Regions from separate parts of the Homo sapiens genome. Here all the other regions are linked to region 2. Evidence: fine-mapped expression QTL. A gene starts in region 2. Each other region holds a variant in brackets. All regions are shown on one strand. Distances are from middle to middle. Region 1 has its middle 27 kb from the start of FLJ42627. Region 2 holds the start of AMDHD2 (amidohydrolase domain containing 2). Region 3 overlaps TBC1D24 (TBC1 domain family member 24).

Evidence for each region. PIP is the estimated chance that this variant, and not a neighbour inherited with it, causes the effect. A credible set is the group of variants that fine-mapping cannot tell apart.
Region 1: its variant is the best candidate, but not a certain one, in a credible set for the expression of AMDHD2 in whole blood (INTERVAL, PIP 0.76).
Region 3: its variant is the best candidate, but not a certain one, in a credible set for the expression of AMDHD2 in whole blood (TOPMed, PIP 0.54).

The regions. Positions count from the first base shown.
Region 1 is chr16:2,606,560-2,616,531 of GRCh38, forward strand. It overlaps the pseudogene LOC652276. Among named protein-coding and RNA genes, the nearest start is that of FLJ42627, 27 kb to the right of the region's middle. The variant G/A (reference allele first, on the strand shown) is at 4,157.
Region 2 is chr16:2,516,647-2,524,646 of GRCh38, forward strand. It overlaps AMDHD2 (amidohydrolase domain containing 2), which reads left to right and starts at 3,725. Exons shown (of 11, transcript NM_001330449.2): 1 at 3,725-3,895; 2 at 4,123-4,259; 3 at 4,338-4,477. The coding sequence starts at 3,813. It overlaps ATP6V0C (ATPase H+ transporting V0 subunit c), which reads left to right. Exons shown (of 3, transcript NM_001694.4): 2 at 2,572-2,755; 3 at 2,895-3,572. The coding sequence ends at 3,099. RefSeq lists silencers at 3,591-3,700, 3,871-3,940.
Region 3 is chr16:2,487,141-2,497,895 of GRCh38, forward strand. It overlaps TBC1D24 (TBC1 domain family member 24), which reads left to right. Exons shown (of 8, transcript NM_001199107.2): 2 at 8,894-9,973; 3 at 10,570-10,587. The coding sequence starts at 9,009. Among named protein-coding and RNA genes, the nearest start is that of TBC1D24, 17 kb to the left of the region's middle. RefSeq lists an enhancer at 9,676-10,281. The variant G/A (reference allele first, on the strand shown) is at 6,251.

The DNA of each region.
Region 1 (9,972 bases), 91 kb after region 2:
GGACTTAAGCATGGATCTGGTGGAAGAGTCCCTGCCTGGATTATTAGACTTGTGTGGAGTGAGCACCTGGGCTTGCAGAGTGTGGGGGTCTGGAGAGGGGTTGGGTGGGGAGATTTAAGGGGGAGGAGTTCCCAAGAAACCATAGAAGCTTTGGGTGCCTGAGAGGTTGGGAGAGCACCCTGCTAAAGCATCCTATCTGGTAGGGAGGGGAGCTCTTGACAGACGGGTTGTTAGGGAGGGTGGTGAAAGCCACGCACATCAAGGGGCTGGCTTGATTGCCCTCTGGCCCCACATCTAAGCTTCTGGGCTGTGACTGCCCCCAACCAAGTCCTCAGAGCCCAGCTTGGGACCCACCACCCGCCATACTCCACGCTCCCAAGCCCTTACTCTGCTGTTCCAAGGGCCGACCTGCTGCCACAAAGTTCTCTTTCTAGACAGCCCGGTGTGAATTCTCACTTCCTCCTGGGACTTCCTCCAGCAGGACTGTGGCTGTGGTGAGCATTTCAGCATCTGCTCATCTGCTGTTCTGTCATCTTTCTCTTCCTTGGTGTCTTCGAGGGCAGGCCAGGTGGAATACGGCTTCCCAAAGACTCGATTCATTTTGGTTAGGTCTCTTGTATTGCATGGTCCCCGGCCCATAGGCATTGTTGAAAACAAAGTCGAGTTTGTTGTTTCCAGCTAAAGCAGCCCCTGCTTTAGTGTGGAGATACTTGAGGAGTTAAAAGGAAACAGGAAATACTACTGCTTTATGGTTGGAAACCACTCAGATGGAGGAGAATTTGGGGAGGCTTCGGTTCCTGCAGCTGAGGCAGCCTTGGAGAAAACTGCACGTGAACTTTTGCCCTTTGAACAGGGCCGTTGTCCCGGCTTGAGGGTTCCAGATGTGGTGGCATCAGATGGGTCTTTGAGGGGTGGGGCAGTCAGGGTGCCTCTAACAGTGTACTGGGTGTTGGCAAGACCTCGGGGGTGGAAAGTTATGGAAGGAATTGTTCAGACAGGGCCCAGTGATGGGGTGTGGGCTAGAGTACCGTCTTTGAAGCCGCTTGGCAAGAGAAGTGGGGATCACGTCTAGTGGAGATGGCAGATGATGTACTGTGTAGCCAGCACTGGTGAGAGACTGTGCCCATCCCGGGCCTGCCTTGTGACTTCGGGTGATTTCCCGTCCCCTGTGAGCTGTAGTTTCTTCCTCTGTAAGGTAAGGGTGACGTCCTCCCCTGAAGATGACAAATGTGGTGCCCCTGCCCCATGCCTGGCACCAGGTCAGTGCAGTCAGGAGAGGCTGTGCCTGGAGGTCTTCGTGTTTGTACTTGTTTTTTTTTTGAGACGGCGTCTCACTCTGTTGCCCAGGCTGGAGTGCAGTGGCGCGATCTTAGCTCACTGCAAGCTCCACCTCCCGGGTTGACATCATTCTCCTGCCTCAGCCTCCTGAGTAGCTGGGACTACAGGCACCCGCTACCACGCCCGGCTAATCTTTGTGTATTTTTAGTAGAGACGGGGTTTCACCGTGTTAACCAGGATGGTCTCGATCTCCTGACCTCCTGATCCACCTGTCTTGGCCTCCCAAAGTGCTGGGATTACAGGCATGAGCCACTGCACCCGGCCTGTACTTGGTTTTTGTTTTTAAATATTTGAGACAGAGTCTCACTCTATCCCGCCTCTATCTGGGCTCACTGCAACCTCTGCCACCTGGGTTCAAGAGATTCTCTTGCCTCAGCCTCCCAAGTAACTGGGATTACAGGCACAAGCCATCATGTCTGGCTGATTTTTATATATTCTGTAGAGATGGGGTTTCTCCATGTTGGCCAGGCTGGTCTCGAACTCCTGACCTCCGGTGATCTGCCCACCTCGGCCTCCCAAAGTGCTGGGATTACAGGTGTGAGTGTACTTTACTTTTAGGAAGGATATGCTAAGAACGCTTTTCCCCTCCCGCAGCCACACTTAATTTCTGTTAATGTCGACCTCTGGCCACACTCAGCCCTGTCAGCCTCGGGTGATGCACCGGAGGTCCCTGAAGGCAGCATGTATGGCCAGGAGTGGCTCGCCCTGCCAGTCCCCCTGCTGCCACCCAGAGCTCTGGCTGACCCTAGCAGCACAGGCCCCCGCTGAGTGGGTCTCCACCTCTGGGGACTGGACCCTGCACTGTGGGGAGGGCAGGGCTTCCTGGGCAGCCCCCGAGTTTTCTTGCAAGAAACCTGACACCCCTGCTCCTGAGAGGGCTCCAGTTCCTGCCGAGCAGAGCAGGACTCTCTGCAGCGACCTCGGCTTGGCAAGACCCCCCGTGGTTCACCTGAAGCATGTTTCTTCCCCGAGAAGCCGCAGGACCTCTTGTGAGGGGCCAGGTCGTGAGTCCACACACGTCTGCTTCTCACTAAGCTTTGAGTCATGTGTGGGGCAGGGACCTCCCAAATTCCAGTTTCTATGCTGGGTGAGGCCGAGAAGCAATGGAAGGGAAGGGTGGTGGGGAGGCAGCAGGCCTGGCGACCAGGGCACAGGGGCCCCACCCTGCTCTCCGAATCTGGCTGCCTTGGACAAGCCTCCTTGGTCTCTGGCCTCAGTTTCCCCATTAGTAATTGGTGACATCAAAGTCCTCTTGTGGGCCAAAGATATGCCACAGCTGCATAAAACAAAACAGAAGAGAGAGTAGAGGTGAAGGTTTTGTGTGCGAAATTGAAACAGAGTCACTTGAAATGGATAATTTCAGAGTAAAAACTAAGTATTTCTAATTAGGTTGATTGCAGATGTTGGTGCACAGGAAATTCTATGCCTTCGCGTCTAGATTTCTGTGGGGCAATTTGACAGAGTTTATCTCCTGGATTGGCTCAGGGCACTGCACCCTCTTGATTTCGTTCCCCTCTGGTGGCACGTGTCTCCGAGCACCGGGAATGACTGAGAGCCGCAGGGCCGACCCTCTTTGCAGAGCTCTGGGAGCTGCGGGAGGGTTGGGCAGCAGCAGGGTTATGTTGGGTTCAGAATCTGGCGTGAGAGCCTGGCAGTCTCCACCCTCATTCCTCACTGCCGTTTTTTTTTTTTTTGAGACAGAGGCTCACTGGATCGCCCAGGCTGGAGTGTAATGCACAATTTTGGCTCACTGCAACGGGGCTGTCAGGTTCAAGTGATTGTCCTGCCTCAGCCTCCCTAGTAGCTGGGATTAGAGGCACCCTCCACCAAGCCTGGCTAATTTGTGTATTTTTAGTAGAGACAGGGTTTCACCATGTTGGTCAGGCTGGTCTTCAACTCCTGACCTCAGATAATCCGCCCGCCTCGGCCTCCCAAAGTGCTGAGATTACAGGCGTGAGCCACCAAGCCCAGCCCTTCACTGCCATTTTCAAGGCTGGTGGTTGCATTAGGGACCTGTTCCTCAGGGGCTGGGGTGCCCCCATGTTGTCTCTGGTGCTTTGCTTGCTGGGTGACAGCATGGAGGGTTGAGGGCTGCAGCCGGAGTCTGGTGACATGAGCAGAGTGGGCAGGCTTCTCACCAGCCTTCTCTGAGTGCTGCTCTCCTAAACAGACTTCCCTCTGTGTTTGTCCTGTGGACTTGGGGAGGGGGCAGCCAGCTCTGTCTGTGGGATCTTCTTCTACCTCCTGAGACTGTGTGTGCCCTGGCTTGGCGCTGCCTCCCGTGCGCTCCTCTCCAGGAGACAACCTTGGCTCCTGCTCTTGGTGTGGCCAGGATCCCTCTTCTCCTCTATGGTTTGGAAACCGGCCTGCCTGGCCTGCGGTGGGTGGCTCCGGCTGAAGGCTGTGACCCCTGGAGATGGGTGGGTCAACCCAGCCTGCTGGGCCCACCCAATACCAGCTTGGGCCCGGCCCCAAGTAGGTCAGATGCCGGTTCAGCAAGGTGCGGGGAAGATGAGGGAGATGACTTGCTAAGAAAAGTCTTAATTATGGCTTTTTTTTTTCAGACGGAGTTTTGTTCTTGTTGCCCAAGCTGGAGTACAATGGCACAATCTTGGCTCACCACAACCTCTGCCACCTGGGTTCAAGCGAGTCTCCTCCTTCAGTCTCCTGAGTAGCTGGGATTACAGGCATGCACCACCACACACAGCTAAGTTTTATATTTTTAGTAGAGATGGTTTCACCATGTTGGCCAGGCCAGTCTCAAACTCCTGACCTCGTGATCCGCCCACCTTGGCCTCCCAAAGTGCTGGGATTACAG[G/A]TGTGAGCCACCACACCCAGCCAATTAGGGCTGTCTTACAAAAAAAAAAACCACCACGAACCTTTGCGAGAATCGAGCGCAGCCTGTGCTGGTTGTGTAAGCCGTGGGACACACGGGAAAGCCAGGAAGAAGAGGAAGAGCACCCCCACACCCCACCCGCGTGAAGAAGAGCAACCCCACTCCCCGCCCGTGGGAAGAAGAGCACCCTCACGCCGGGCCCGCAGGAAGAAGAGCACCCCCACGCCCGGCCCGCAGCATCCCGCTGGCTTCCTGGCCACCTCTCCTCACCCATCTTAGAGGCATGGCCGGGCTGGGGCATCTTTCCCTCCTTGGGCAGGTACCGCTGATGGCCTTGTGGGCAGCACAGGGGCCTTACCTGGGTCGGCTCAGGCACTGTTCTGAACATCCGTGAGGTGACCTTGCTCCCTTTGTCTCCGTGAGCCTAGGAGTATATCCTGAATTTTTTATGTTTTTGTACTCCCCATGTTCCATATTTTTGTTTCTGCATCAGGGTGGAGGCTATTGAGCCACATCCCTGACACAAGCAGTGAGCTGCCAAGGCCCTTGCGCCTGAGCTTGGCACTGTCTGGGCCTGGGCTGGTGCCATGAGTAGACCCTGCACGCACTAGGCCAATCTGGAGCACGTGGCTCACCCGAGCTCAAAGCACCGACACCCTGCACGTATATGGATGCGAGTCAGGCCTCAGCGAGACCTGAACCCTGGTAGGATTGAAGAGTGTTGGTTTCAGACCCCAGCACTTACTGTGAATGTGGAAATCAGCCACTGAAAGCCTCAAAAGAGCACAGTGGTGAGAGCAGCACCAAGCCCACTGCCAGTACACCCAGTACGCTGCTGGGTCCTCAGGCCTGTTCCTCTGTCCTGCTGTGTGGTTTTAACTGATGGCCGTCCTCGGCCCGCCCTCCTTCCCTCCTGCCTCCGTCCTTCCAGTTGCAGGGCTGGGGCTGCCCTGGTTGTCTGGGGGCACCCAGTACAGTTTCTTCTCCTCTTGCATCGGCCCAGGGCCCGAGAAGCGCATGGTGGGTTGTCTTGGCCTAGAGGTCACGGCTCAGTGCCCAGGTCCTGCCACAGGTTGGGTGCCCTGGCACTCATGGCGGCCCCGAGCTACACGAGCTGGTCTCCCCCACCTTTTGCTCGTAAAGAAACTGAGGCTTGGGGTGGCCTGGCTGTGAGCCTGCAGTCTGACCACTGAGGCCAGGCCTGGAGGCCTCCATGGCTGACAAAGGGGTTCTCTGGGGTTGTCCTGGGCAGAGGCGAGCCTCCGCCCTATCTGATCTTTCCTGACCTCCTGCCAGCGGTCTGTCGAGGTAGCAGTGAGCCGTGAATAATTCCTGAGCTGAGCGGTGTGCGGACGTCACGCGGCCAGCATTCTCTCTGTATGGGGGTGGGGCAGGGAGGAACCCTGGACTCGGGTGGCAGCACTGGCCGCCTTGCCAGACTTGGGCCCCTTTGTGGGAAATGGTGTCCATTTTTTAGCAGTTGCGCAGGACCGCCCAGCGTCCTCTTTCCGGGAGCTGGCCCTGTGGCCCCGGCCCTTGCTTGAGAGCTGTGGAGTCTGGAGGGCTGGGGAAAGGCAGGGCCAAGCCCAGGAGGCAGGGCCTGTGGGGTGGGCAGCTCTGGCTGGAGTGTTCCGGGGGAGGGTGGGGAAGGAGGATAGGGTCAGGTCTGTGTGGAGCTGGGGTCACCCTAAGGAGTAGGGGGGCCGCCGAGGCTCCGGGTCCAGCGCCCCCATGCCCGGAGCCCTAATTGATTTTATCTCAGCCACAAAACTCAGTCCCTGTGATCTAAAAAGAGCAGGTTGTTGCAGGTTTGCGGTGGTGGACTTTGGGAAAATCTCTTGAGACCACTAGGTCTTAGCACCCAAATGGCAGAATTTGTCCATGGATGAAAATAGGGTCCTAGCGTGGCCCCGTGCTTTGTGGTGGAGACACCTTCGGCCTCCCCATATCTGCGAGCCTGGCATTCCCGTGGCCAGCGCCTGCCCATGGCCCCACAGGAGCCACCATCTGGTGAGGGGGCTGCTCCTGCTCCGAATGGGGTGTGGGGTTGCTTCTCCAGCGCTTGGCCCTGGGCCTCGCCGGGGAGGCTGCCGGTGTTTCTGAACGGAGGCCTCAGCTCCCCGGCCTCCAGGGCACCCGCAGGCACCAGCCCCTGTGGGAGTGGCTCGCAGGTGGGAGCAGGACCCTTGCAGGCATGTGGGGGGAGGCAGGAGCTGCCCCAGCAGAGCCACACGGAAGGTCTGAGTCTGTGTAGAAGACAGGCTGTGCCAGCTTCGCAGTCCCCCCATCAGATGTGTAGCCGACAAGACAGAAACTGCCTCTTCCGTCTCCCCCATGGGGGCTGCCTGGGGCGTCTGAGCCCCCGTCCTGTGTTCACGGCCGGGCCACTGGGGCTCTTGTGCTTTGTGGAAGGGGCTGCAAGGTGTGATGTGTGGGGCACCCCGGGCCTCAGAGGGCATCTGCCCACATTGAAGTGGCCGTGGTAGCAGCAGGGGCAGTGCCTCTCAGGGGTCCCTCCACCCAGGTGCGTGAGGACACCTTCCGAGGGGTCTGTTTTGTAAACATCTCGGCCTCCGTGAGCGCTGAGCCGGGGCGAGGGCTCTGTGAGGTGAGTGATGATCTTGGGGAAAGCCCCGGATGCTGTTGAGTGCAGGTCACTGTGGCCTCCCTCGCTGCTGGCTCCCGGCCTGTTGGGCAGCCGCCCCTGCTGAAAGGTGCCCTCTCCACCCCTGGCAGGAAGCCCCTGTCACCCTGACCCCCCGTTCCTGCATGTAGGCTGCGGAGGACCCGGGCACGAGGAGCGCAGGCCCAGGCTGGTGGCCATCAGAGGTGTCCTTCTGAGGCTGAGCCCTAGGCCCCTGCCCTGCCCGCGAGGGCATCTCTGGGTGAGGTTTTCGTGTGTGTTTTCCTAGAGGTCTTGCAGTTGTGAGGACAGAGGTCCAGGGCACAGTGGGCTCACCTTGGAGTACGCAGAGCCAGGCTGCCTCCGTACGGAGAGACTTAAACTCACTTAGACCTGGGGTGGTGGCTGGTCAGGGTTAGGCTGTAGGCGGCAGGACGTGGCCACACCGTCAGGGGTTTCCTGAGATGCCGCAGGCTCAGGTGTGCTGGGGAGAGGCCTGGGTAACCTGGTGCCTCTGAAGCCTCCTGAGGTGGCCGGGCCTTGGTGGACCTGCAGGAACCTTCGGCTTCTCACGGAGGACTCACCGTGCTCTGCTCTCTTTAGGATGAAACAGGCGCCTATTTAATCGACAGAGACCCCACCTACTTTGGGCCTGTGCTGAACTACCTGAGACACGGCAAGCTGGTGATTAACAAAGACCTCGCGGAGGAAGGTAAGCCGAGTTTTGGGCACAGGTGCCTTAGCTTTGGGGGCAAGGGCCCGACAAAGGTGCCAAGGGCTCCACTTAAGACACAGATGCCTGCAGCCTGGGGCCCCAGGGAGGAGCAGGCCCTGTACTCTGAAGCTGGGGCCGACGTTCTGGTGCTGAGGCCACGGGCAGCGGCACAGCTGCCGGACAGGGAGGCCTGGGGACCCTGTGGGTGTGGGGTCCTCCCTGGCTGCAGCTCCTTGGAGGGCTCCCTCTGTCCAGGCTCCGGCTGGCGACACAAGGGGTGTGAGGGGTTCCTCCCTGCTGTGACTGAGGTGGTCTGAGCGGGTGTGTGAGGCACATGCCCGGTGATGCCCACGGCGTGCTTCAGGGCCTGGTTCCCTGGCCTGCTCTCCCTCAAGGACAGCCCAAGGGTGGTGAATGTCTCTGTGCCATCACCTGGACTGTGCCTGCTGCTGCCAGCTGCCGTGTTCCATTCTGAGTGATCGTGGTGCAGGGACGGTGCCCACACGCGTTGGGCCCAGGCTGGCCTGCCTGTGTGCTGCGGTGCTGGCTTGGCTCAGAACAGCTCGAGGCCTCGCCGTGAAGGCTGAGGGTTTCTGGGCACCTGCGTGCGGGCGTGGCCCTGCTCCCCCGGGTCCGTGTCTGCGCATCGGTCTGCACTGGGCAGCGTCTGACTCCGTTTCTGTTCTGGGCCTCTGGGCCTGGGCATCTGCCTGCCTCCTCCGAGTTCACGCGGGGCGTGGAGTGACGGGGGCTGTGGCCCAGCCCTGCCCCTGCTCTGAGGCTGTGAGCCATGATGCCCACTCCTGTCTCTTTGGCAGGGAATGTCTTTCACATGCACTCTCTCTGGGCAGCCGCTTGTGTTCTGTCGTGGAGCCACTCGAGTTGAGGCTTCGTTTTATCTCAGTCTGCCCCTAGTGGGATTGGCTCAGAAACAGGCACTAGACACAGACCAAGGCCCTGCCGCCCAGGCTCACCTCTAACCCACCCCTGACGCAGCCACTCACGTCCTCGGTGCTGGAGAAGGGGGCTGTGCGGGACCCATGCGGGGCTGGGAAGTCTGTGACACTGAGGCCCTCATCTCCTTGTCTCTATCCTGTGTGGCCCTGTCCCATGTAGGTGGCTGGGTGTTGTCCTGAGCTGCCATGTCCCATATGTGGGTTCCTCTGGGATCCTGGAGGAATGAAGACCACCCATGAGGAAGCCCTGAGGCAGGACCTGTGGAATCTGCTCTTAAGGCTCTTAAGGGAGGTTTGCAGTCCCTAAATGCTTCAGGTGGCCACGTCAGGCGGCACAGACTCCGCTCCCCAAGCCTGGCTCCCTTAGAGTTTGGGCTCAAAGGATGTCGGGAGGATGAGGGGCGTTACACAGCAGGTAGGGGCGTTGGGAAACTTTGACACTAGCAGAAATTTAGCTGTGGATGACTTTTAGATAAAATCTAGAATTCCCAGCTGGGTGCAGTAACTCATGCCTAAAACCCCAGCAGTTTGGGAGGCCGAGGCGGGTAGATCACTTGAGGTCAGGAGTTCCACACCAGCCTGGCCAACACGGCGAAACCCTGTCTCTACTAAAAATACAAAAATTAGCCGGGCATGGTGGTGCACACCTGCAGTTCCCGCTAGTCGGGAGGGCGAGACAGGAGAATCGCTTGAACCCACAGCGGCAGAGGTTGCAGTGAGCCGAGATCGCACCACTACACTCCAGCCTGAGTGACACACCAAGACCCTGTCTCAAAACAAACAAAATCTGGACTTCCTCAGTCATGGAAAGTGGAACTCCGTACACGGTGCCAGTTAGAATAAGCCATGGCGACAGAAGTCAAACCAGAAAAATGGATCTCATGATAACAGCACTTAAGTACGAGGGGGTCACGGGGGAGGTGGCAAGAGGAACTCAGAGGAAACAAGGCTGAAGTGGGCGACATGCCTGCCTCTCACAACACCCTCGGTCCCTTGGGCACATGGTCCACGCTCTCTACGAGAAGCTTAAAGAGCCAAGCGTGCTGAAGACCCCATGGCTGTGGTCAAGCTGGGAGACCAGCAGCCTCAGAGCCTACTCAGCACTGAAGAAGGTACCAGTGTCCCCACCAACGCCACGTCCCAAAAGTTCAAGCACACAACACTCGGGGGTTTCTGTGGAAAGACAGGCAGTGTTCTGGAGCATCTTGGCCGCACAGTTGTACAAGCACCAAGCCAAGCGCAGATGCGACAGGCCGGGCAGGAGGCCCCGTACGTGGGACCCCGGGGCCAGTGCCGGGGGTGCTCGGCGTCCGGTTCTAGCGGCACCCTGTGGGTGGAAACTCACTAGCCTGTCCACGGCCACGGAAATGAGGAGAAAATGACCCACCCAGCACCTCACCCGCCACTGCCTCACGGCAGCAAAGACTACAACCACCAGCAGGCCTGCCGCAGTGGCACAGACACCCTCCCCTTTCGGCTACAAATCACACGTGGGTCTGGCGCA
Region 2 (8,000 bases):
TTTTTTCTCATGACAAATGTCCTGTTCTTTCTTCATCATGTCCTTCAAGAAGTTGTCATTTGCTCCTTTTCTGTATTTCCTGTGACTTCCTCCCTGCTGGCGAGTGCCTTGTATTTTATGCTTGTGTTTCTGCAACTGCTTTCTGGCCCCCCACTCTTTCTGTGGCTGCTGAGCCTAGTGCCGCTCACAGGTCTGCCTTCTGCAGTCTGGTCAGGCTTGGCCTCCGGACTGGAGTCCAGGGTGCTCATGGTATTCCGCTCCTGGTGGCCATCCCTTTCTTCCCTGTGCTCCTCTTGGTGCCTCCTCCCCCTGCCAGCCACATGATTCTTCCTGCTGCCCTCTGTAGAAAAGGGCCTGGCTCACTTCCTGCCTCTGGTGGACTACTGGCCTCACAGGGTCCACTACTTGGGTTGCTGAGTTCCCTGTATTCAGTCTCCTGCCAACGTGTCTGCCATGCTCTGGTCTCTTGTGCATACATGATGCAGTTGGATGTGGTCCTGGGCCTGCAGTGGGAGCCCCCTAAAATGCACTGTAATTGCTCTATATGCTTGCCAGGGAAAAAATGCACTGTAACCAGGAGTTCAGGACAGGCGCTGGGACAGGCCCTGGGCCCCAGTCTGCAGGTGCACTGGGTGTTGGCATGGCATGTCTGGGCACCTCCAAGGTGGCGTGGAGGAGGCCGTGTGGCTCCCTGGCCCAGGTCCCAGCCTCCTTCCTCCCTCTATAGTCACTCCCTGGATACCCAGCACCGTCGTCTTGGGTGCCTCTGCAGGTGCTATCCAGAGCCCTTGTCTTATTGCCTTGTTTTTCTGTGACTCCTCTCTCCCGCCAACTTGGGATACTTGTCTGTGAAGCCCTTCCCCAGCACCCCCTTCTCCGCTCTCCTGGAGCATGTCTCTGTGCCTGGAGGTCACCGCGCCTGTGTCCTCACCCCTGCTGAGTGCTGGGACACAGGGTAGGCAAGTTTTGTGGCCCAAATATATCAATAAAATATGAAGAGGAATGGTAGGGGTAGTCCTGGTCCCTTCCACCTCTGACATATGTAGTCTTCTGCAGGTCAGGCTGTTTGTGTGTGTGTGTGTGTGTGTGTGTGTGTGTGTGTGTGTGTCTGTCAGAGATTCACTCTTGTTGTTTGTTTGAGACGGAGTCTCTCTGTGTCGCCCAGGCTGGAGTGCAGTGGCGTGATCTTGACTCACTGCAACCTCCACTCCTGGGTTCAGGCGATTCTCCTGCCTCAGCCTCCCTAGTAACTGGGATGACAGGCATGCGCCACCACTCCTGGCTAATTTTTGTATTTTTAGTAGAGACGAGGTTTCACCATGTTACCCAGGCTAATCTCGAACTTCTGACACCAGGTGATCCGCCCGCCTTGGCCTCCTAAAGTGCTGGGATTACAGGCGTGAGCCACTGCGCCTGGCCAAGTCAGGCTGGTTATTGATCTGCTCCCCTAAAAGACCATGGCATGAGTTCTGTGGGCAGAGAGGGGGCAGGGAGTTGCCAGTGCAGTCCCCACAAGCAGCTCAGTAGGCCCCTGTGGTGGCCCTGGAGGGCAGCTGGCAGAAGTCAGAAAGGCAAATGAGCCCCCGTGACACTGCTGTGTCCACAGAATTCTCCACTTTGAGAATAGGGCCCAGGAGAGGGGAACTGAAAAGAAAGGCAACATTCTCTTGGGAGAGGAAGGAGGGACAGCTCTGGAGGAGACAGGCCACCCTGGAGCCCAGCCCACCAGCACTGTTGCGGTGGGAGGCTTGGGCCCTCTGGCCAGGCTCCTGTGTGCTTGGAGCCACCCCGTGTGCAGGGGAGACCTCTCTGGGAGGTCAGCTGAGGCCTCGTAGTTGGACTGTTGATGATCCCCGTCGTCTTCTCTGCCCCCATCCTCTTCTTGGCTCACCCTGTCTCCTGTCTGGTAGAGAAGATTCTCCAATCTGTCAAGGGTTCAGGCCTGCTGTGTGGCTGAGGGTGCTGAGAGCTGCCCTTTCTGGCAGAATGTTTGGCCCTCCTAGGTTAATATTTGGGGCTGGGAGCGTTGGGGAGCTTGGCCTGGGCAGTGAGTCAAGGGAGCTCTGGCCTGGGTGACAAGAGTGGCCAGGTCAGCTGCTTCTGACCCTCCGGTCACACCCTGTAGCAGTGGCTTTGCCATCCCCAAGACCTTTGGTGGCTTTTCCAGCATGTTGTCCTGGGCAGTAGCCCCAAGGGTCGACTGACCCTGACCCCACATGGGGGCTGCTGAGGCTGCACTGAGGCTCCCTGGGGTGACAGGTGGGTTCACTGCAGAGCCAGGAGCCCCAGATGGGTCACGCCGCCCCAAGAGCTGCTGCTGGAGGAAGAGCTGGACTCTGAGGGTGGGGGCCTCACGTAGAGGAAGGAGGAGTGGCTGTCCTGGCCTCCTTTTGCTTGCCCGTGGCTGTTCCTCCTGGGTCCTCTTGCCCTGGGCTGGATGCCTTCTTCGGCTCCCCCTCTGCATGTGATAACTTGGGGTGGCCCTTGGAGCTGTGCCAAAGCTACACCTCGGGGTCCTAGTCTCAACTGGCCTGCGTACTGCTGTGGGCTCACCCCGCCTTCCTCCCACAGCCCTGGGCGCTGCCTATGGCACAGCCAAGAGCGGTACCGGCATTGCGGCCATGTCTGTCATGCGGCCGGAGCAGATCATGAAGTCCATCATCCCAGTGGTCATGGCTGGCATCATCGCCATCTACGGCCTGGTGGTGGCAGTCCTCATCGCCAACTCCCTGAATGACGACATCAGCCTCTACAAGTGAGCACTGGGGTCAGGCCCCTGCCCAGGGCTGGAGGACTGCAGGGAGGGGGGCGGTTCACCTGTGGGTGGTGACCCGGACCCTTGTCTCCCCCTGGTTGGCAGGCTGCTGATGTCAGTCCTCTCTTCTCGCCCCCAGGAGCTTCCTCCAGCTGGGCGCCGGCCTGAGCGTGGGCCTGAGCGGCCTGGCAGCCGGCTTTGCCATCGGCATCGTGGGGGACGCTGGCGTGCGGGGCACCGCCCAGCAGCCCCGACTATTCGTGGGCATGATCCTGATTCTCATCTTCGCCGAGGTGCTCGGCCTCTACGGTCTCATCGTCGCCCTCATCCTCTCCACAAAGTAGACCCTCTCCGAGCCCACCAGCCACAGAATATTATGTAAAGACCACCCCTCCTCATTCCAGAACGAACAGCCTGACACATACGCACGGGGCCGCCGCCCCCAGTAGTTGGTCTTGTACATGCGCAGTGTCCTAGTGCCCATCGTCTGTTTCCCCGGCCTTGCCCCCGCCCGCCCCGTGCCGTGGACATCTGGGCCCACTCATCGCCCCTCCAGGCCCCCGGCGCCCCACCCCCTAGAGTGCTCTGTGTATGCGGATGATTTAGAATTGTCATTTCTCTTTACTGGATGTTTATTTATAAAGATCTGGCCTGTTCCTGCGTCTGCGGAGCGGCCCTTGTCTCCCAGCTATCTATAACCTTAGCTAGAGTGTCGCCTTGTGGGTTCCTGTTGCTGAGACTTCCTGGATGGAGCCGCCCTCACCGCCGGGCCCGTGGCCCTGCGCGGAGCTGTGTCCAATAAAGTTCTTGGATGTGACGGGCCTGTGTCTGCTCAGCTTGTTGGGGGCGGGGGCGGGCGGGCGGGCGGGCGGGCGCCGGGCGCTGCCGGTCACGTGGGCTGGCTCGATCACGTGGGCGCGGCGGTCACGTGGCGCGCCGCTTCAGTCAGCTGAAGGTCACGTGGGCGCGGTCTCAGCTCTCGGCTGGGGTTCGTCACTGGGCGCGGGATTTGGCCGCCGCGGGGCTCCGGAGCCGCTCGCTCCCGACACGGCTCACGATGCGCGGCGAGCAGGGCGCGGCGGGGGCCCGCGTGCTCCAGTTCACTAACTGCCGGATCCTGCGCGGAGGGAAACTGCTCAGGTGGGCGCGGGCCGGGGACTGCGGGGCTGGGGACCGGGCGGGGTGCAGGGTGCGGGGCCGGGGACCGGGCGGGGTGCAGGGTGCGGGGCCGGGGACAGGGCGGGGTGCAGGGTGCGGGGCCGGGGACCGGGCGGGGTGCAGGGTGCGGGGCCGGGGACCGGGCGGGGTGCAGGGTGCGGGGCCGAGGTCAGGCCCGCGATGCGAGCGCCCACCCACTGCGTCCCCAGGGAGGATCTGTGGGTGCGCGGAGGCCGCATCTTGGACCCAGAGAAGCTGTTCTTTGAGGAGCGGCGCGTGGCCGACGAGCGGCGGGACTGCGGGGGCCGCATCTTGGCTCCCGGATTCATCGACGTGCAGATCAACGGTGCGGCCCGGGGCCGGCAGGGGAACCCAGGGGAGGAGCTCTGAGCTCCATGCGACACTTCCTTTTCTGTGGCTGCAGGTGGATTTGGTGTTGACTTCTCTCAAGCCACGGAGGACGTGGGTTCGGGGGTTGCCCTCGTGGCCCGGAGGATCCTGTCGCACGGCGTCACCTCCTTCTGCCCCACCCTGGTCACTTCCCCACCGGAGGTTTATCACAAGGTGAGGTGAGGCTCCCTGGCTGAGGTGGAGGGGGCTCCCGGAGCAACCAGCGCCCTCATTTTCAAACTCACGCCCCACCCCCCACCCCCAGCACGTATTCCATGGTCCTGAGTCTGGCCTCCTTTGATGACCGGATCTGGGCCTGGGTCCCGCCCCTGTGCTTCTTTATCAGTTGTCGCTCTGCCTGGCCTCCCTAGACCCTCTGTCCTCCGCAGCTGTCTCCACACTGCTGGCTCAGCACCGTCTGAGCCATAGGCCGTCCCCACCCCCTGCACTGCACTCTGGCTGCCTCCAGGCTTCAGAAACCATCCCCTTAACCAAGGCCGCAGGGGATTCTGTGATTGGCACAGCGATAGTCCCTGGTCAGGCTCTTCCTCCCTAACCTGTCTGATGTGTGACTCAGTGGAACACGCCTTCCAGAAGAGACTCCCCCTGCTCCTGTACTGCTTGCCCCACGCTTCCATTTTCTTTCCTGCCCGGAAGAAATTTGGTTGTCCTTGGTCTTTTTTTATTTTAATTTTTACTTAGGTTCTACAGGGTTAACTTTTTGCTGTATGTTACTACTATTCAGGCTCCTCTTGGCTGTACCTGTGCTACTGTTTTTTACTGAACTATTTGAGAGTAGGTTGTATCCAACATGCTTTTTTTTTTTGTTTAGTTTTTTTTTTTTTTTTTTTTGAGACGGAGTCTCGCTCTGTCGCCCAGGCTGGAGTGCAGTGGCACAATCTTGGCTCACTGCAGGCTCCGCCCCCCAGGGTTCACGCCATTCTCCTGCTTCAGCCTCCCAAGTAGCTGGGACTACAGGTGCCCGCCACCTCGCCCGGCTAATTTTTTGTATTTTTCGTAGAGACGGGGTTTCACCGTGTTAGCCAGGATGGTCTCGATCTCCTGACCTCGTGATCCGCCCGCCTTGGCCTCCCAAAGTGCTGGGATTACAGGCGTGAGCCACCGCGCCCGGCCAGTTTTTGTTATTTTTAAGAGACAGGGTTTCTCTCTGTGGCCCAGGTTGGAGTAGAGTGGTGTGGTCATAGCCCATTGCAGCCTCATTCTTCTCTGCTCAAGCGATCCTCTTGCTTCAGCCTCTTGAGTAGGTAGGACTACAGGTGTGTGCCACCATGCCCAGCCAATTTTAACATTTTTTGTAGAGAAAGTCTCACTGTGTTGCCCAGGCTGGTTCTGAACTCCTGGGCTCAAGAGATCCTCCTGTCTTAGTCCCCCAGAGTAGCTGGCACTACGGGCTTGTGCCACCACACCCGACTAATTTAAAAAGCTTTTTCGGCCGGGCGCGGTGGCTCACGCCTGTAATCCCTTTGGGAGGCCGAGGCAGGCGGACCACGAAGTCAGGAGATCGAGACCATCTTGGCTAACACAGTGAAACCCCGTCTCTACTAAAAATACAAAAAATTAGCTGGGAGTGGTTGCGCCTACCTGTAGTCCCAGCTACTTGGGAGGCTGAGGCAGGAGAACCGCTTGAACCCAGGAGGCAGAGGTTGCAGTGAGCCGAGATTGCGCCACTGCACTCCAGCCTGGGCAACAGATCGAGACTCCATCTCAAAAAAAAAAAGTTTTTTGTAGAGACAGGGATCTCATTATGTTGATCAGGCTGGTCTCAAACTCCTAGGCTCAGGAGATCTACTGCCTCGGCCTCCCATAGTGCTGGGATTATAGGCGAGAGCCACTGTGCCTGGCCCATCATGCCTGTTTATTCCTTAGTACTTAACTTTTTTTTTTTTTTTTTGAGACATAGTCTCCCTTTGTTGACCAGGCTGGAGTGCAGTGGTGCGATCTCGGCTCACTACAACCTCCGCCTCCTGGGTTCAAGCGATTCTCCTGCCTCAGTCGCCCGAGTAGCTGGGACTACAGGCGCCCGCCACCATGCCCGGCTAATTTTTGTATTTTTAGTAGAGACGGGGTTTCACCATACTGGCCAGGCTGATCTTGAAATCCTGACCTCACGATCTGCCCATCTCAGCCTCCCAAAGTGCTAGGATTACAGGCGTGAGCCATGGTGCCCAACCAATACTTAACTATTTCTTAAGATAATGAATATTTTCTTATGGAGCCACAAGAGTTAGTGAGTTTAGAAAATGAACCCTGTTAACAGTACTTTAATTGAGCCGTCTGTGTTCTAGTTCTGTCCAGAGCCCCCGCCGTTTTCCCCTCCAGCACAGGATTCATTTCAGGATCATCACTTGCGTTATATGCCCAAGGGGTCCCTCTCTTGGTGTGTGGGCAGAGCCAGAGCTGGGAACAATGGGGGTGGTGTGTGGGTTCTGGGCTCAGGCTTCCTGGATTTGGCATTGGCCTCCTGATGTCATGTATCGGCTGGAAGACTCAGGACAACCTTCTGCCTTTCTGAGCCTCCGTTTCCTCAAACCTGAAGTGAGGATGAAGGCAGCGTGCATGGCTTAGGGGCGTTGGGTGCTCAGCATCGTGCGTGAGATGCTGAGTGTTCACCACTCAGTATTAGCCATGGATGTCTTTTTGGAAATTTCCCACAGCCCTCCCCACACAGAGTCAAATGTCAAAAACCTGCTGCCAACTGGCACCTGGTTCTCACAGCTGCTCTCTGGGGCTCTGGGGCCTGTCAGAGCCACCTGTCCAAGATTCAGGATTCAGCACATCACCTCTGCCCCACCCCTACCGGCAGCATTCCTTTCCTACCTGTCCAGCCTCTTCTCTGTCCCCAGCCACATTCCCCACTCCTGCCCCCAAACTCTTGGCCTAGAAGGCCCTGGCCTGCTCCCCAGGCCTCCTCTGCTAAGCCTTGCCTACCTGTCCCCACTGTGCCCCCCACTGCCTGCGCATCTCTGGCCAGCACAGGCGTGGGAGGAACTATGGCTCTTCTTCCTTAGGAAGAGTCTCTGACAAGTAGGACTTTGTTTTCTTCCCAGCATGCACTGCAGTGCAGGTGTCTTAACCCTTGGCGCACACACAGGATGAAGGCAGAGAGCCAACTATTGAGGGTGGGAATTGGGAAGCCTCCTGCCTGGATCATCTTAGAAACTGGAGGCCCCTTTTCACTCGGGTCTCCCCTGTGCCGTGCACGCCACCTCTTCCAGGGCCCACTCACCCTGGGTGGAATTGGATGGCCACTTTGCCAGAAGCTTCTTCGGTCTTTTGTTGTCCTGTTCTGGTCCATTAAGACCACCTTCTCTTTTCTGGGGGGTTTCCGCCTGTCCTTTGCTACGGTACTTGGAGACAGGTGAGCTCACTTTGTTCTTTGCTTTAAGTCTGTTACCTCCTGAGCCAAGGTGAGGCACCTCCAGGGGGCAGCCAGGCCCCTGCCTCTGGCCCCGCACACCCTCTACACTTTGACCTTTCCGGCTGTTTACCTGCCTGGAGTGTGCCTCACTCCCCTCCCCTCAGTTGATCTTTTACTGTGCTCTCTCTATGTAGCGCCCTCTTGCTCCCTTCTAAAACTCCATTCTGGAAAAACTCAGCCATTGTCTTTTTTTGTTTGTTTTTTTCCTGTTTTAATCTTTAGTGAGCCTGTGTATCCATAGGGCTTGTGAGGAAAAAC
Region 3 (10,755 bases), 28 kb before region 2:
TCCACATCTGAGGGGCACCGTCCCCACCCACAGGCTGCCTCCACACCTTTCCGCCCCTTCCACAGCAGCAGGCACAGCCCTGCCCGTGGGGTTCCCCTAGCACTTCCCCAGCTGCCGTGGTTGACAGCCTTCTCTCAAGCCGCCTCTCCCTGGCACAGAGGCGGCACCTCAGTGGAGGTCTGTCATGTGACTAACTGCAGGACGAGGGAGCCGCGGTCGTATGCTGCCTCCTCACGTTTGCTGTGACCTGGGACAGGAGCGGTCCCCAGGAAGGGAGGCACGGTGTCGGGGTTGGTGTTGGCCGTGTTAAAATGTCATCAATGAGGCTAAATGTGTGTTCTGTCTTTGTACATGAAAGAGAGTTTGTTTTCAAATCCGGTTGTTTGGGAAAATCACATTCCCCTCTGAAGAAGCGAGACGTGCAGAGGCCTCGTGACTCAGGCTGTCAGGCCTGGAGTTTGGTGCTGGAGTTTTGTGCTGGAGTTTGGTGTTGGAGTTTGGTGTTGGAGTTTGGTGCTGGAGTTTGGTGCTGGAGTTTGGTGCTGGAGTTTGGTGCTGGAGTTTGGTGTTGGAGTTTGGTGTTTGGGGATGGCAGGTGGTGTTACTAGTGGCAGCCTTGCCGGGGTGGCCTGTGTCTCCAGGACTCGTGGGAGGGCCCTGGTACTAGAAGTGGCCGAGTGCCCTGAAGTCCCAGACCTGCGTGGGTCCTGCCTGTGCTCAGGGACCCTCTGGAGCCTCTCTCGGAGGTCCTCGCTGTCCCAGGATGAAGGGAGATGGAGCAGCAACAGCAGCCAGCAGCTGTGGGGTTGTGTTCCGCCCCGAGGCTGGGGTGAGCTGCTTGTCTGCTGGAGCGAAGGGGCCAGCTGCCCCGCTGGGGCCCCTCCTGCCCCGTTCTCCAGTGAGGATCTACTTCCTCCCACATCCATGCTACCTCCCACCTGCCTCCTGGCTAGAAATTAGCTCAGGGTGCCACACTCTTGACAGACGGCCCGCCTCCCAGCCCTGGCCGCCTTCCTCTTCCTGTGGGCGCCTTCAGGGGGTTTGCTGCCAGGGACGGATTTGGGGGTTTCTTGGAGCTCCCATGGAGTGAGGACATAGGCTGCTGTTGGGTGTTCCTGGCTGAACACTGGTCAACTGGCAGGAACTGCCCTCCCTGGGAAGGCTGCTGGGGCTGTGGCGGGGTGGGGGTCTGCAAGCCTGTAGCCATTTAAAGGGCCCCTCCTCACATGTGGTAGAGCCAGAACTGTGCCCTGTGGCCAGAGGGCACGGTGGTCACATGCGTCAGATGACATATCAAGATAACATTTTGGGGAAATAGAAATCGCTTATACTCATTACTCATTCGCACATAGCTTTTTTTTTTTTTTTTTTTTTTTTTTTTGTGGGATGGAGTCTCGCTCTGTCGCCAGGCTGGAGTGCAGTGTGCAGTGGTGCAATCTCGGCTCACTGGAAGCTCTGCCTCCCGGGTTCACACTACTCTCCTGCCTTAGCCTCCTGAGTAGGTGGGACTACAGGCGCCCGCCACCACACCTAGCTAATTTTTGGATTTAGTAGAAATGGGGTTTCACCATGTTAGCCAGGATTACAGGTGTGAGCCACCGCACCTGGCTGCTTTTTTTTTTTTTTTTTGAAATATTTGGCCGGGCGCGGTGGCTCACGCCTGTAATCCCAGCACTTTGGGAGGCCGAGGCGGGTGGATCACGAGGTCAGGAGATCGAGACCATCCTGGCTAACACGGTGAAACCCCGTCTCTACTAAAAATACAAAAAAAAAAAAAAAATTAGCTGAGCGTGGTGGCGCGTGCCTGTAGTCCCAGCTACTTGGGAGGCTGAGGCAGAAGAATCACTTGAACCCGGGAGGCAGAGGTTGCAGTGTGCCGAGATCGTGCCACTGTATTCCAGCTTGGGTGACAGAGTGAGACTCCTTCTCAAAAAAAAAAAAAAACAAGAAAGAAATATTTGCTTTGGAGCAGGAACAGAGTGAGACCCTGTCTCAAAATGAATGAATGAGGCATGGCCCAATGGCTCACGCCTGTAATCCCAGCACTTTGGGAGGCTGAGGCGGGCGGATCACGAGGTCAGGAGTTCGAGATCAGCCTGGCCAACATGGTGAAATCCCATCTCTACTAAAAATACAAAAAAATTAGCCGGGCGTGGTGGTGGGCGTCTGTAGTCCCAGCTACTCGGGAGGCTGAGGCAGGAGAATGGTGTGAACCCGGTAGGCGGAGTTTGCAGGGAGCCGAGATCGCGCCACTGCACTCCAGCTTGGGCGACAGAGCCAGACTCTGTCTCAAAAAATAAATAAATAATAAATAAATAAATAAACGAGCGAACAAATGAATACAAACATTTGCTTCTGATCTGCAGGTACCTTGAGCTCTCAAACAGGCGTGGCGTTTATGAGGAAAGGCCATGTAGGTCCCTGGAGAGGCTTCCCGGGTGAGAAAGAAGCCGCACTGGGTATGGAGGGCAGCTTGGCTGTGGAGAGAGGCATTAGGAGGGGACGGTGGCCTGTGAGAGAGCTGCCCCTGGCCCGTGCAGTTGCACCTCCCTCTGCAGGACCGGCTGCGTGTTGACCCGCTGGGACCGTGATGTCCCAGGCATTCTAGAACACCTTTCTAGCACCTGGCCTGGGACCCTGTAAGGATGAGAGCATCCTCAGGCAGCTGAGCGGTCCTGGCCGGCCGGGCTGGGCTGAGTGCTTTCTATCAACAGGCTCAGTAAATCCCGCAACAGAACAGGGACTAGAGCCCATCCCTTGCCAGTTTCCCACTGCGCTTGGAATATAATCCACGGGGGCTTGTGGGTGTGTCCGTGCTGCCCTCTGCGCCCTGTAGCGCAGCCAGCCTGTTCCTCCCTCAGCCTTTGCACCTACTCTGCTGGTGTCTGGAGCGCTTCATCCTCAGCAATCCCGGCTGCTTCTTTCTCACTCCTCTGGCTCAATGTCATCTCCTGGGAGAGGTGTGCCCTGAGGATCCTCAGTAAAGTAGCTGTCACCCTCCAGACCCACGGTGTGGACCCCCACCATCTGAAACTGTCTGTGTCTGTAATTCTTGTGAGTCTCGTGGGTGTCAGGTGGAATTTTTCCTATTTTCCTGGAATTGCAGGCTGGGCCCAAGGCTGAGGACCAAAGACAGGAGGAGTGCTTCTCTGCTCCACACTCAGGGAGCTGCTGGCAGCTGGGCTGACAGGTGCCACCTCGGAGAACCAGCGCCACCTCACTCCGTGCCTCTGCAGGGAACTGGAGCCTGGTGGGGAAGCACACTTTAGGTGAAGGCAGTGCAGTGTTCATGGCGAGCAGCGATTCGCTCGGACCCCAGAGGCCACAGGAAGATGGCTTCCCCCACAGGAGGCACCCTCACAGGGCCCTGCTGGCACTGTCTGCCTTGGGCTGCCTGAACCCGGAGAGAGAGTGGGATAGACTGTTCATGGGGTGTCACCCTTATGTCACCTGCACCCCACCCTGTCAGTCCAGAGTGAGGCTCAACCCACAGGGGTTGCTTGGGAACTGTTGCCCGTGAGGAGTTGGGTGTTATTATCGGCTCCGCTCTGCAGACATGGCAACCGCAGGTTAGGGAAGATGCACGGCTTGTCCGCATTTCAAGCAAACAAGTGGCAGAGCTGGACTTTGTGGCCAGGCCTGTCTAACTGCAAAGCTGCCCCGTTTCCACAGTAGCCCCTGCCTCCCCTCTCACTCCCTCCCCGGCCACCGCCTCCGGCTCTGCACCTTTGTCAGGGGTTGGGGGACTGCAGGGAACAGAGGAGGCCTTGTTTGCTGCGTAGGAGCAGGTGCGGCTTATGATGTACAGCAGCAGCCAGCCAGCAGATAGACAACAGGGAAAGCCACTCGGCCGTGAAAGCTCACCTCCAGAGTGTGGGCACTCAAGCCCATAAGTGCTCCAGCCTGGGATAGTTTATGTTTTTGATCAGTTTCCACCTCCCCTTACCTCCTCATCTCAGTTGCCAGTTTAAAGAAAACCTCACTCAGTTGTGAATGCAAGAAAAAGGTTTGGCAGGATATATACCAAAATGTGAATAGCGATTATCTGTATGTGGAAGGGGAGTAGGATTAGAGAGGTAATTTAAACAGAACTCTACATTTTTACTCCCTAATTTTGGTACTATTTGACTTTTTGTGATTTTTGCATTCAAATATCACCAGCGTAATGAAAGACTTTTTTTTTAACCTAAGGAAACCAATCTGGACCTCGTTTTTATTTATGTATTTATTTTTTATTTTTGTTTTCATTTTATTTTTTTTTTCAGACAGGGTCTTGCTCTGTCACCCAGGCTGGATGGAGTTCAGTGGTACAATCAGGTCCCACTGCAGCCTTGACCTCCTGGGCTCTGGTGATCCTCCCACCTTAACCTCCTGAGTAGCTGGGACTACAGGTATGCGCCACCACGCCTGGCTAATTTTTTTTTTTTTTTTTGAGATGGAGTCTCACTCTGTCGTCCAGTCTAGAGTGCAGTGGCTCCATCTTGGCTCACTGCAACCTCTGCCTGCCGGGTTCAAGCGATTCTCCTGCCTCAGCCTCCCACGTAGCTGGGACTACAGGCATGTGCCACCACACCCAGCTAATTTTTTGTATTTTTAGTAGAGACGGGGTTTTACCTGCTGGCCAGGCTGGTCTCAAACTCCTAACCCTGTGATCCACCTGCCTCGGCCTCCCAAAGTGCTGGGATTACAGGCATGAGCCACCGTGCTTGGCCCGCCTGGCTAATTTTGGTATTTTTTTGTAGAGATGGGGTTTTGCCATGTTGTGTGGGCTAGTCTTGAACTCCTGGGCTTGGCGTCCAAAGGTCGTCCCCGTTCAGCCTCCCAAATAGCTGGGATTACAGGTGCATGCCACCAGGCCTGGCCATTTTTTTTTATTTTTGGTAGAGATGAGGTCTCATTATGTTGCCCAGGCTGGTCTTGAACTCCTGGGCTGAAGTGATCCTCCTGCCTGAGCCTCCCAAAGTGCTGGGATTACAGATGTGAGCCCCTTTGCTGGCCTGGACCTGGTTTTTATAGATGCCTTAAGTGGGTTGTTGCCTTGTGTGCACAGCCCCAGAAATGTCGTGCGCTCTTTTTGAGTGAGGGTTTGGGGAACAAGAAAGAATCCAAGGGCTCCCTCGGGTCTTTTGCACACATCCTTGGCTCGGGGGTCCCTGTGAGTCCAGCACGTCGCCGGACCATTCGCGGCAGTAAACACAACTTGGGATCTGCATCTCCCTAAGGGAACTTCGCAAGGTGCACCCACAGCTTTTACTGTTTCCAGTTTAATATTCAACCTGAATCTGGGGCCAGCCGAGTGGAGGCTGGTGCTGCTCTGCCCAGCTCCTGTTCTGTTTAGAAACATGTTTATTGCCTTAAGAAGGAGCCAGTTCTTTCACCCAAACAGGATGGGCCTGGAGTTCCTCCAGAGGCTAGTGGGCCCATAGCAGGGAAGGAGGGATGTAAGCTGTGGATAACCGACCGACACGTGTAAGATTGTGCAGTGTGACCCAGGCGTGGCTGTGCGCATGTGAGTGGACCTGTCGGCCTGACCTTCAGGACCAGGGAAAGGGGGAGCCCTCACTGCCTTCCCTCCCAGGACGAAGCAAACCAATCAATGGTCTTAAGGGTTTCTTTTCTTCTGAGGCCTAGTCCTGCTGTGGGCAAGGTTTTTCCAGTGGGATACATTAAAATCAACTTCGGTGGCTCACGCTTCTAATCTCAGCACTTTGGGAGGCTGAGGCGGGCGGATCACCTGAGGTCGGGAGTTCGAGACCAGCCTGACCAACATGGACAATCCCTGTCTCTACTAAAAATACAAAATTAGCCGGGCGTGGTGGCACATGCCTGTAATCCCAGCTACTTGGGAGGCTGAGGCAGGGGAATCGCTTGAACCCAGGGAGGCGGAGGTTGCAGTGAGCTGAGATTACGCCACTGCACTCCAGCCTGGACGACAGTGCGGCACTCTGTCTCAAAAAAATAAATAAATAAAAAATGGCTAAAATGGTAAATTTTTTGTTTGTTTGTTTGTTTGTTTGAGACAGAGTCTTGCTCTGTCGCCTGGGCTGGAGTGCAGTGGCACAATCTCGGCTCACTGCAATCTCCGCCTCCCAGGTTCACGTCATTCTCCTGCCTCAGCCTCCCGAGTAGCTGGTACTACAGGCTCCCGCAACCACGCCCGGCTAGTTTTTTTGTATTTTTAGTAGAGACAGGGTTTCACTGTGTTAGCCAGGATGGTCTCGATCTCCTGACCTCGTGATCCACCCGCCTC[G/A]GCCTCCCAAAGTGCTGGGATTACAGGCGTGAGCCACCGCGTCCGGCCTAACATGGTAAATTTTATGCTATGTGTATTTTACCACACACACAAAAACACGTGTCGAGGTGTTTTCCCAAGACAGTGTCTCGCAGACGTACGTTTTACACTATGATTTTTACTTTTCAAGAACTGTTTTAAAGCAGTATTTGCCTTATAATAGGTAGGTGAATGTTCTAGCTGCAAGAGAAACCGGAGTGGTCTGGTCACTCAACCAAAACCTGCTGAAGCAGACCCCTGGGGCACACTGGGAACTTCTACCATCCCAGGTGGAAAGGTTAGTCTGATGTGCGTAAGCAAACCTTGCACTTCTGTGCGCAGGACGGTATCCTTGGGCCAGGGCAGCCACCTGTTGTCCAGAATCCCACAGGGCACGTCTTACCCACTCCTTTTATGTTTGCCTGAGCCCAGGGGTTGCTGTTCTTGGAGAAACACCAACCACCCCCACTTGACTTCTGGCCCATTCGGATCCAGAAATGTGCAGTTTTAAAGCTGCAGCACCTTCCATTTAGGTCCCAGCTCTCCCTCTGGAAAATGCCTGCTCCTCACCAGAGATTCCTCCCTGGAGCACCTGCCTGAAGCATAGCTTTCAAGCTGGTGGTTTTAGAAAGTTAAGAGCCGGCTTCAGAATTCCGACAGGGTGGGATAGCATAGGCTGTGACTTTCTTAGCACACACAGCTGGTTAAAGAGAACTGGGAACGGGCTGGGCGTGGTGGCTCACGCCTGTAATCCCAACACTTTGGGAGGCCGAGGTGGGTGGATCACGAGATCAGGAGTTCGAGACCAGCCTGGCCAACATGGTGAAACCCCATCTCTACTAAAAATACAAAAACTGGCTGGGTGTGGTGGCGGGTGCCTGTAGTCCCAGCTACTCAGGAGGCTGAGGCAGGAGAATCACTTGAGCCCGGGAGGCGGAAGTTGCAGTGAGCCGAGATTACGCCACTGCACTCCAGCCCGTGCGACAGTGCAAGACTCTGTCTCAAAAAAAAAAAAAAAGGGAGAACTAGAACGAAGCATCTCTTTGCTCAAAGTGATCTTCTCAACTGGGGGTTCCTTTTCAGAAGGCCCCCAGGGTGCAGGGTGGTGTTTAGGAGCCTGGAGTGGACCATGCTCGAGTGGAAAGGTGTTTTCAGCAGGGTCAGCCTCTTTTTTTGGTAGAGATGGGGTCTCACCATGTTGCCCAGGCTGGTCTTGAACTCCTGGCCTCAACTAGTCCTCCCACCTTGGCCTCCTGAGTAGCTGAGATTATAGATATGAGCCACTGTGCCCAGCCAAGGGCCAAGCTCTTGAAGCCCTTCTGGGAACTCTATCTCTAGCCTCTCATTACTCAGAATCTGTGTGATGTATTCCAGTAACTTCATAAGTTCTGTGAAAAGAAGGTATACTCCAAAGTTTGTAACGGCTTCTCAAAAGTCACTTATCTTAAGTGGAAGCCCTTCTAATACTTACACAAAGATTAAGGCAAATAATGTGGCTGCGCAACGTGACTCTCACTCGTAATTCCAGCATGGTGGGAAGATCACTTGAGGCCTGCGGTTCAAGGCCAACCTGGGTGACAGAACAAGACCCCATCACACACACACACACACACACACACACACACAAAATAAATAATAATAATAATAATAAACAAAAAAACAGGCCAGGAGCACTGGCTCACACTTGTAATCCCAGCACTTTGGGAGGCTGTGGTGGGTGGATTGCTTGAGATCAGGAGTTTAAGACCAGTCTGGGTAACATGGCAAAATCTCGTCTCTACTAAAAAGAGAAAAAATTAGCTGGGCGTGGTGGCGCCTAACTGTAGTCTCAGCTATAGCTGAGGTGGGAGGATCACCTGAGCCCAGGAGGCAGAAGTTGCAGTGTGCCGAGATGGTGCCATTGCACTCTAGCCTGGATGTCAGCACAAGACCTTGTCTCAAACAAAACAAAACAAGGCCGGGCACAGTGGCTCATGCCTGTAATCCCAACATTTTGGGAGGCCAAGACAGGAGGATTGCTTGAGCCCAGGAGTTCAAGACCAGCCTGGAGAGCATAGCGAGACCCTGTCTCTACAAAAAAATAAAAAATTAGGCCAGGGCGGTGGCTCTCGTCTGTAATCCCACACTTTGGGAGGCCAAGGCAGGCACATCACAAGGTCAGGAGTTTGAGACCAGCCTGACCAACATGGTGAAACCCTGTCTCTAGTAAAAATACAAAAAATTAGCCAGGCATGGTGGTGCATGCCTTTAGTCCCAGCTACTCAGAAGGCTGAGTCTGGAGAATCGCTTGAACCAGGGGCGAGGAGGTTGCCGTGAGTGGAGATCGTGACACTGTACTCCAGCCTGGGCGACAGGGTGAGACTCCATCTCAAAAAAAAAAATTAACTGGGCATGGTGGTGGACACCTGTCGTCCCAGCTACTCAGGAGGCTGAGGCAGGAAGATGGTTCAAGCCATTCAAGGCTGCAGAGAGCAGGGTCACGCCACTGCACCGCACTCCAACCTGGGCAACAGAGCGAGACCCTGTCTCAAAAGAAAAGAAAACTACACCACATTTGAAAAAATACGTTCTTTAAAATGTGAACCTTGAAACACAGATGCTAAAAGTGTTTTTTTAATCCTGCAGGGTGTGAGATGGCAGACAGGTTTGCAGGAAACCCTCAGAAAGGGGGCTGGAGGATTTAGCCACTCTGTCCTCCCCTTCCGGCAGTCCAGGGCCTCCTCCCGAGCACAGCGGCGCTATGGACTCTCCAGGATACAACTGCTTCGTGGACAAAGACAAGATGGACGCTGCCATCCAGGACCTGGGGCCCAAGGAGCTGAGCTGCACTGAACTGCAGGAACTGAAGCAGCTGGCGCGCCAGGGCTACTGGGCCCAAAGCCACGCCCTGCGGGGAAAGGTGTACCAGCGCCTGATCCGGGACATTCCCTGCCGCACGGTCACGCCTGACGCCAGCGTGTACAGCGACATCGTGGGCAAGATCGTGGGCAAGCACAGCAGCAGCTGCCTGCCGCTGCCCGAGTTCGTGGACAACACGCAGGTGCCCAGCTACTGCCTGAATGCACGCGGCGAGGGGGCCGTGCGCAAGATCCTCCTGTGCCTGGCCAACCAGTTCCCCGACATCTCCTTCTGCCCCGCCCTGCCGGCCGTGGTGGCCCTGCTGCTGCACTACAGCATCGACGAGGCCGAGTGCTTCGAGAAGGCCTGCCGCATCCTGGCCTGCAATGACCCCGGCAGGAGGCTGATCGACCAGAGCTTCCTGGCCTTTGAGTCGTCCTGCATGACGTTTGGGGACCTGGTGAACAAGTACTGCCAGGCGGCCCACAAGCTGATGGTGGCCGTGTCGGAGGATGTCCTGCAGGTCTATGCGGACTGGCAGCGCTGGCTGTTTGGGGAGCTGCCCCTCTGCTACTTCGCCCGGGTCTTTGACGTCTTCCTGGTGGAGGGCTACAAGGTGCTGTACCGCGTGGCGCTGGCCATCCTCAAGTTCTTCCACAAGGTGAGGGCCGGGCAGCCGCTGGAGTCGGACAGCGTGAAGCAGGACATCCGCACGTTCGTCAGAGACATCGCGAAGACGGTGTCCCCTGAGAAGCTGCTGGAGAAAGCGTTCGCCATCCGCCTCTTCTCCCGCAAGGAGATCCAGCTCCTGCAGATGGCCAATGAGAAAGCCCTGAAGCAGAAGGGCATCACCGTGAAGCAGAAGAGGTAGGTCGCCGGCAGCCTGTGAGGGGTACACCCAGGGTCGGGGGCTGGGGCAGGACGTGTCTGGCGTGAGCTCATCCTGCCGGCCTCCAGGCGGCCTCTGCCCATGGTCCACCCAGCCATCTGTGCATGGCTGAAAAGACACTGAAACAGGAAGGGCCTTCCCAGTTACAGCCACAGACGAGGGACATCGGGTCCTATCCTCTGGGGCCAGGCCCACGGCTGAGATGAAAGCTGATGCTGGCCATGGGGTCGCAAGGCATCGTGGGAGGCCAGGCCCACTCCCAGGGTCATTTCAGGGCAGCCTCTGCTCCACCCCTCCGGCTCTGGGCTCCGTGGCTGGTCTCTGCTGTGGCTGCTGGGCGTGGCCTCCCCGCCTGGAGCACAGCCCCAGGGGAGCAGGGTCAGGAGTTCATGGTGTCTGTCCTATGTGGATTTGGCAGCCAGCGCTGTGATGGTGCCACGCTGCGGCCTGTTGGCGTGCAGCCCTCTTTCTTCTGGGCCAGCAAAGGCCTGTCGGGGGATCGGTACTCACACTAACCTCTCTTTGTCTGTTTTATTTTTCTTCTCCATGTCCGTTGCTTTCTCCTGTTTTTCAGTGTGTCACTTTCTAAAAGGTAGGTCTGAAACTGTATCTGCACACCTGGCCTCTGTCTTTCCACCAGGCTGACTCTAGGCCAGCTGCTTGCTCTGGGTCTCAGGGCTGCTCTCGTGGGCCAGCTTCAGCAGCGCTGCCTCTGAGCCGGACTGATGCTCAGGCGCCTTCTGTCTGTCTGTCTGCCTGC